Linked DNA regions of Homo sapiens: region 2 is linked to region 1. Evidence: fine-mapped expression QTL. A gene starts in region 1. The other region holds a variant in brackets. All regions are shown on one strand. Distances are between the middles of the regions.

Region 1 (4,395 bases):
AAGAATCTGATGAAGCTGGGAGGAGTTGGTTTTGAACTGGAATGGGGATGCCTCATCCTTGGAGAGACTGGAAGGAAGGCTAAAAGGATGGGAGTGACTGTAGATATGTTGATATGCTTGGGAGGGAATTCAGGCACTTGGGAAGAGCACAGGCTGATGTTTTCCACTTGTTTGATGAAGTAATACTCCAGCGGGACAGGCTCTGCTGTTTCTGACACTGTGTGGAAGGAGACAGAGCAAGGAAGAAGTTGGAAGGGAGGTTGAAAGAAGAGTGCCAGATGGACCTCTTGGTCTTTGTGGTGGGATCAGGAAATTGGTACTTTTTTCCCTCAGTCTCTCTAAGAGCAACACTATTCAAGGGGCTCAGAACCCTTTGAGCCGCACTACTGGGTTTTCCCACCTGCTCAGGACTGCGAGGCCAGACTCTGTGTCAGGGCCATGCTCAAAAATCATAGACTCAAAAAAACCCACAAAAAACTTGAAGTGGAATGCTTAAATTTATTGAGAAAAAAAAGTCTTTGAGAGACAAGCACTTTGATACTCTTATTCTTGCAATCCATAAAACTTCCTGTAAAAATGAACGACTTTAGGCGGGGCGCGGTGGCTCATGCCTGTTATCCCAGCACTTTGGGAGGCCAAGGTGGGCGAATCACGAGGTCAGGAGATCGAGACCATCCTGGCTAACACGGTGAAACCCCGTCTCTACTAAAAATACAAAAAAAATTAGCTGGGCGTGGTGGCGGGCGCCTGTAGTTCCAGTTACTCGGGAGGCTGAGGCAGGAGAATGGCGTGAACCCAGAAGGCAGAGCTTGCAATGAGCCCAGATTGCGCCACTGCACTCCAGCCTGGGCGCCAGAGCAAGACTCCGTCTCAAAAAACAAAAACAAAAAACGACTTTGGTGAAATTACTAAGCAGACAGAATTTACCCAAAGTTGTAAGATACTGAAATGCAGATACAGTTTTTTATTTTTATTTTTATTTTTTAGACAGTCTTGCTCTGTCACCCAGGCTGGAGTGCAGTGGTGTGATCTCGACTCACTGCAACCTCTGCCTCCTGGGTTCAAGCGATTCTCCTGCCTCAGCCTCCCGAGTAGCTAGGATTACAGGCGCACGCCACCATGTCTGGCTGATTTTTGTATTTTTAGTAGAGACAGGGTTTCACCATGTTGGCCAGGCTGGTCTCGAACTCCTGGAACTCAGGTGATCCACCCGCCTCTGCCTCCCTAAGTGCTGGGATTACAAGCGTGAACCACCGCACCCAGCCATGGATACAGTTCTTTATCAGCTAATGGTTAAAAATTAAAGCAAAAAAAAAATGCAAAATAAAACACTAAGAATCACAGACTTTTAAGTGACCAAGGCTGATGAGAAATCATTCGCCATGCTACAAACACGGCCAGAATGTCCGTCGAGGGGCAGGCATTACACACAAAAAATAAGCTTCTTTCTGCCCTCAGGACTGTATGGAGGAAAAAGACTACGAAAATCAGTATCTATAACAGCATGAGATAAGCAACGTGAGGAGAGGCACAAAATGCAATGAGGTGACCGAAAAAACCAAGTCCTCTCATTCTGAGAGGAGGAGCCCGATTTCCCCAAGGTTTTAAAAGAAATAAATAGGGCGAGAGTCAAAGAATCATACTCAGATAACCTTGCAAAATGCGCCCCTCCCGCCCGGCTTCCCGCCTTTGGCACCGACGCCCTCGGGGCTTCCCTCGTGCCAGTCCGCGCGCGCACGCCGGGGGGCAACCGGTCCAGGGCCGCGAGACAGTCACCGCGAGAGGGCGCGAGCCCGAACCTGTCTACGGAAGTCCCGCCCTCACTTCCGGCGGCGGAGGATTGGGAGGGACTGAAGGCCGTTTCCGGCTCTGGTAGTGTAGGGACTTCGGCACGTGTGTCATTCCCCGGGATTTCTGTAGTAACCCTGCTTCTGGTGAACTTGTCTGGCCGGCATTCATTTAAGGCCTAAGGATGAAGGCGGTAAGTGTCCTCAAAAGCCCGGTCGCCGCGGCCTAGGGCCCCTTCGGGTGATAGAGTCACTGCCTGAGTTAGCTTTTAGGCAGGTTTTCACCCGTGTCTAGGGGGCGGTGGTTTAGACTGGGGGCTTTCCATTCCTTACACCGAGCTCATCCTTGGTTACCCACTGTGTGCGCGCACCACTTCAGAGTATCACGAAGAGACAGGCACGGAGTTTTGCATGCGTGGGATTTCATACTTTGAAGGAATTTTTCAAGACCGTCTTTCGAACTCGTTTTTCACAAATGAGAAGCAGGGTCCTACCCTCAGCGAGTTTATAATGTGAGTCACGGTACCCATGAAGGGTAAAGAGATAGAAAAGCAAGTGATTTGTCCTGGTTCTCCCAGAAAATAAGAGGTAGTCCTGGGGTTCAGGACTAACTTTGGGATTTCTGAATGAGTCACCAGCAAGAGAAGTGGAATCCAAAGATCCGAATTCAGTTTTGCCCTCCTTAGTTTATGGGTCTTTTGGCAGCTTCATCAGTAATGTGAGGATAACAGCAGTCAGTACTCAACTAGGCTGTTAGAGGTGATTTGTTGGAGCACTTTGTAAGTAATAAAATCGTAGATAAATGTAAGTTTTATTAAAGACAGCCAGCATTTTGCTTTGAATGTGTTAAACTACAGGTGTGTTAAACTAGCCTTGAATAGCCACTTACCACTACTAGATCAGTGGTTCTTAACCTGTTTGGGGATCGTAGAACCCTTTGAATTGCTGTGAATTGGGATTGAATAACTGATGCTGTAGCGCTCTTCTGTAGGATTAAAGCCATCGTTTGGTTTTAGCTTTTATATGCAAGTCTGTGGCTGTGGGACATTGAAATTGTGGAATTGGTCTAATGAAATTTGTAATCAGTTCTCTTTAACCTGATTTAAAAAATAAGTTTCTGGGTATGCAGTATTCTTTCTGTTATTTTCTAGAGAAGAAATAAAAAACAGATCCCAAGCTTTCGCAAGTTAATAAAAACTAGTAAAGTCAAACTTGAAAACAAGCTAAAAAATAAGCAGTTTAAACAACAAAGCACTCTCAAGAAGTACCGAAAAGAACAGAGGAAACTAAGGCAAGCTGTGAAAGATGCTGTGTCTAAGAAACCCATTCCATTGGAGAACCCAAAGGAAAAGCGACCAGGTAATTGTGAAAACATCATGTGCTCTGGTTTCCATTGATTTATTCTGAAGTGTTCTTCATGGAAATAACTTTGCTTTCTAGTAATCGCTTTTCTTGTTCTCAGATCTTCCTAGAGTGGGTAAGGATAGTAGTCCTATAGGACTGCTATAAAGCATATATGCTTTATCACAGTCAGTATGAGAAAACATTTCAATACAGTATTCATTCAAGCTTCTGCTTTTAGTTTGTCTGGAAGGCAGATCTGAAGATGCACTACTTGGGAAAACAAACTGAAAGTACTCCGTTACATAAATATTGGGCAGTGTGCCAGTGCTGCCACTTTGCCATTCACCAGCAGTTAGGTAAGGTAAGAACATTGCTTGTCTCTGGTTCATTCTTCACAGTATTGCCAAGGTACACTTCTAAACTTCTGACTTTCTTTTCATGTGGAAACTTGGGGTGAAATTGAGTTGTAATTGTCATGGTTATTTTGTAAAACTATCTAAAAATTATTAAGTACTCAAAACTTGTAAGGAATATGACTATTTTGAGTCAGGCTAGTTCTACAACTTTGCTGGTACTTTTAGGGTATTCTTATTTGACTATATCAGATTATTAGACAACTATTCAGTCTTCTCAGGTCCATTTTTTAAAAATTATTATTATTATTTTAAATAGACAGGGTCTTGTTCTGTCACCCAGGCTGGAGTGCAGTGTGCAAAAATAGCCCACTACAGCCTTGACCTCCTGGGCTCAGGCAGTCCTCCTGCTTCAGCCTCCAAAAGTGCTGGAATTGCAAGGGTGAGCCACAGCACCCAGCTAAAGTTTTTTTTTTTTCTAATTTTGTGGGTACATAGTAGGTGTATATATTTATGGGATACATGAGGTACTTTGATACAGGCATACAATGCATAATAATCACATCAGAGTAAATGTGGTATCCATCACCTCAAGCATTTATCTTTGTGTTACGAACAATCCAGTTATACTTTTTTAGTTATTTTAAAACATAAAATAAATTATTGTTGACTATAGTCATCCTATCTATCAAATACTAGATCTTTTTCTAAGTGTATTTTTGTACCCATTAACCATCCCTACTCCTATCTCCTCCAACTGCCTTTCCCAGCCAGTGGTAACCATCATTCTACTCTCTTCATGAGTTCAGTTGTTTTAATTTTTAGCTACCACAAATAAGTGAGAACATGTGAAATTTGTCTTTCTGTGCCTAGCTTGTTTAACTTAGCATAATGGCCTTTAGTTTCATCCA
Region 2 (4,395 bases), 20 kb after region 1:
TTTTATGACATTTACGTATTCTGCCTCTGCTTTTTTCACTCTGTGGTATATGCTCTTAGATTTTTGTTTTTCAATCTATTTTCAGTGGAAGAAAGCAGAAGAGAAACTAGAGCGAGAGCTTCGAGAGGCAGAAGCTTCAGAGAGTACTGAGAAAAAACTTAAACTGGTAGGCAGTTTCATATTCTGTTATGCTTTTAAAATGCGTTAAGTTGTTTAAACTAGAAATTTATTGTTTCAGCTTGTAGCTGTGTAATTTTGGTTTCTTTCATGAGGCTTAGATGTGTGACTTTTGTGATGTGCGGGAAACTGTGATGTGATCAGTGCTAGTTTTATGCAGTCACAGGGTGTATATCTTCATTCTGTTTTGTTAAAAATTTCAAAGATTGCATTGTGGGGAGGGATGGGTAGGGAAAAAAGTTAACCTGTTGAAGTGATACTTATGCTCACTCAGGAGAAAGCATACCAGGTTATCCTAAAGTCATTTTGTCTGTCTCCTCTGCCAGCACACAGAGACTCTGAATATTGTGTTTGTAACCTACTTCAGAATATTGAAGAAGGCCCAGAGGTCACCTCTCCTGCCAGCAGTTCTAGAAGGTCTTGCCAAGTAAGGGCTGTGTAGGTTGAAATCTTTTAGATTCCTTCTAAATAGGAAAGACCAAAGAATTTTCGAGAGTTCCCTAATGATGGCCCATTATCCTCAGTTCTCATTCCTTTTCTGATTGTCACCAGCCTTTACTTGAAGCTATTCATAACAGTGGGCTTTTTTGATTTTCTCATCTCAAACCTTTTATTTTTAAAATCTCCTTTACCAACTCCTTCTTTCTGCCTACTAAATTCTAGGTGTTCCTAAGGTTAAATCTCTCAGTTCTTGACTCTTTCTGCACTGTGTAGTCAATTGCCCATCGTCATAGTTTGAGTGGATCATGCAGATGACTCTTAAGTCTATTTTAACCCGGCTGTACATCATTTCTCTAGTTCTGTGTAATGTGTTTCTGCTAAGATAGATCTTTTGGTGTATTCACTCAACACTAATGGCCTTGTCAGGATGTGAGCTAGAGTAAGGGTTGTGGTTGTCATGATAGCGTTCCACAATTTTTTGAGGTGGTATCCTATAGAACATTGCTATTCGGTAAAAATATAATGTGAACTTACATATATAATTTAAAATTTTCTATTAGCCACATTAAAAAGATAAAAAGAAACAGGTGAAATTAATTTTTATATATTTTACTGGATTTGATTTATCTGAAGTATTTTAACACAATATTAAACATTAATGAGTTGTTTGGTGTTTTTTCATAACATATTTTCGAACACTTATATTTTACGCTTGTGTCTTAATTTGGACTAGCTACATTTTAAGTGCCTAACAGCCACATGTGGCTAGTGGCTACCATTGTTGGGCAGTACAACTTTAGGAATAGAGTTGGAAATAGGACTGATGGCTAGAAGATATAGAAAAGGCAAGTTCTGTTTATCATAAGAAATTACTTTCTAATAACTGGAGCTATTTGGCAATGGTATGCATTTCCTTATATGGTGATACGGTCCTTGTGGTTAAAAATCTTCAGAGAGGCTGGTCAGAGAAGGGATTATTCCTACATTGTGTAGGACTTGCTGTTTTTATTTTTGTTTTTAAATAGAGACAAGCTCTCACCATATTGCCCAGGCTGATCTTGAACTCCTGAGTGAGTCATCCTCCAGCCTTGGCCTCACAAAGTGCTAGGATTACAGGCGTGAGCCACCATGCTCGACCCAGCTATTTGTTTTTTAATAACTAATTCCTTTATTTAAAAAAGTTTAAAAAATAATATATGGTCATTTAAAAAATTTAAATAATGCAAAAGAATATACAATTTAAAATTGCAAGCTCCCCCTCCTATATATGTATGTAGTCTGTCTGCGTGCCATCTGCCACCTTTTTTTTTTTTTTTGGAGACACTGTCTTGCTCTGTTGCTCAGGCTGGGTTGCAGTGACGTAATCTGAGCTGACTACAACCTCCACATCCCAGGTTCAAGCAGTCACCTGCCTCAGCCTCTCGAGTAGCTGAGACTACAGGCATGTGCCATCACACCTGGCTAATTTCTGTATTTTTAGTAAAGATGGGGTTTCCTCATGTTGGCCAGGCTGGTCTCGAACTCCTGACCTTAGGTGATCCATCCGCCTCGGCCTCCCAAAGTGCTGGGATTACAGGCATGAGCCATCGCACCGGGCCTGCCTGCCATCTTTCATGCAAATGGAATCATGCTATGTTTAGTGTCCTGTAACTTGCTTTTTTTTTTTTTTTTGGTTTTGTAAACAGTTACTTTTGGTACCTCTCCCTTATCACATATATATCACTTAATTTTTAAAAAATTTATAGTGCTCCATTTTATAGATATATTGTACTTTATTTGGTCAGTCGCCTATTTGCACTGGGAATACTTGCGCACGTGTGTGTGTGTGTGTGTGTGTGTGT[GTGTGTA/A]TCTTCATGCATGTGTGTGCATGTAGTGCCAGATCAAAGGGTATGCTCATTTTAAATTTTGATAAATAATTGTCAGATTGCTTCTCCAAAAAGTTGTACCGATATGCATGGAATATGTCACTCATAAGGTCTTTTATTCTTCTAAGATTTACATAGATCAAAGACTTCTTGCTAATATTGAAGAGATGTCCTGACTTTAACCTACTTCAGTGTCTACTATAGTATATGGAGTAACTCTCAAATTTAGCAGCTCATATGATTCTTCTTTAACCCTATTGGGTGGTCTCAGTTATTTCTACAAATAGAGGCCCAGGACAGTGAAGTGAGTTACCTAGGATCACGCAGGTAATTAAGAGCAGAGCCTGAACTAGATACTGGGGTCCAGTATTCTTTCCATTTTATCCTTAAAGCTGTCATAAGGTCCATATTCTTGTAAGTAGCAGAATCTTTCCTTGTCTCTCTTCCCACCACCTGTTTTCTTAGAAGCCGATCCTGCCGGATACCTCCTAAACTTTCCTCAGGAAGTTGTTTGCTTCTAGTAATTTCTTTCTCAGTGCAGAAGGATTTTTGAAATATTTTTGGTTTGTTCAGTGCCTTATATATTTCTACTGAGTTTAGTGTTCAATGGTGTATGAATTGTTGAAGAGGCCAATCTGAATTAATGAAAAGTATCAATAATTGCCATGTCTTTCATAGCTAACATTTCGAAATAAAGAATATTAAAAATACAGTTTTAAAGTCAAGCTTAATTTCTACCAGCTTTATTTCTGCTTTTAGTTCACTGATTAACTGTTTTGTTTGATTCCAGGTTTGCTCACCTTATAAATGTGGAATTTTTTGATGATCTGTTAGTAGTTCTTCATACTCTCATTGAGTCTGGTGTAAGTAATAATAAATTATTTTTTAAAAGATATAAATGGTAATTACTATTTTAAAAATTTTTCAGGTTTATTGAGATATATTTTGTATACAGTAAAACCCCTTTTAGATGTACAGTTTATGAATTTTGACAAAGGCCTATGATCATATGATTACCACCACAGTCAAGATGTAGAACGTTTTCAACCATTGGAGAGTTTTAAGCAGGAGGGTTGTCTGACCTGTTTTCTTTTTTTTTTTTTTAAATTGATGCATAATAGATGTACATGGTTTCAGGGTATATGTGATAATTAAATATATTCATATAATATAGTTTGTAAATATTTTACTTGGGATATCAGTCACCTTAAATATGTGTCTTTATGTGACAACCATTCAAATTCTTCCCTCCTAGCTATTTTGAAATAGATAATAGATTATTGTAAACTATAGTCACCCTGTAAATCTGCCTCATACTAGGTTATCTTAAAGATAACCTTTATAGGTCTTTTTTTTCTTTTTTGAGATAGGGTCTCACTCAGTTGCCCAGGCCGGAGTGCAGTGGTGCAATCACAGCTCACTGCAGCCTTGACCTTCCAGGGCTCAGGTGATCCTCCCACTTTAGCCTTTTGAGTAGCTGGGACTACAGATGTGGGGCACCATACCTGGCTAATTTTTCTATTTTTTTGTAGAAATTTTTTTTTTTTTTTTTTTTGAGAGGGAGTCTTGCTCTGTCACCCAGGCTGGAGTGCAGTGGCGTGATCTCGGCTCACTGCAAGCTCCGCCTCCCGGGTTCACACCATTCTCCTGCCTCAGCCTCCCGAGTAGCTGGGACTACAGGCGCCCACCACCATGCCCGGTTAATTTTTTGTATTTTTAGTAGAGACAGGGTTTCACCGTGTTAGCCAGGATGGTCTTGATCTCCTGACCTCGTGATCTGCCCGCCTCGGCCTCCTGAAGTGCTGGGATTGCAGGCGTGAGCCACCGCGCCCGGCCCTGAGAGATGGGTTTTTGCCATGTTGCCCAAGCTGGTCTTGAACTCCTGGGCTCAAATGATCTGCCTGCCTCAGCC

Direction of the effects. Alleles are on the strand shown, and positions count from the first base shown. SD is a standard deviation of normalised expression in the study named.
For the expression in follicular helper T cells of the gene that starts at base 1,872 in region 1, GTGTGTA is the low allele of the variant in region 2 and A is the other (large effect, 1.1 SD a copy in Schmiedel 2018).

The links. PIP is the estimated chance that this variant, and not a neighbour inherited with it, causes the effect.
Region 2: its variant is the best candidate, but not a certain one, in a credible set for the expression of NOC3L in follicular helper T cells (Schmiedel 2018, PIP 0.60).

What each region holds. Positions count from the first base shown.
Region 1 is chr10:94,360,416-94,364,810 of GRCh38, reverse strand. NOC3L (NOC3 like DNA replication regulator) reads left to right here and starts at 1,872. Exons shown (of 21, transcript NM_022451.11): 1 at 1,872-1,981; 2 at 2,939-3,146. The coding sequence starts at 1,973. RefSeq lists a silencer at 1,669-1,798 and an enhancer at 1,939-2,198.
Region 2 is chr10:94,340,624-94,345,018 of GRCh38, reverse strand. NOC3L (NOC3 like DNA replication regulator) reads left to right here. Exons shown (of 21, transcript NM_022451.11): 12 at 86-166; 13 at 504-604; 14 at 3,274-3,346. Among named protein-coding and RNA genes, the nearest start is that of NOC3L, 20 kb to the left of the region's middle. The variant GTGTGTA/A (reference allele first, on the strand shown) is at 2,460.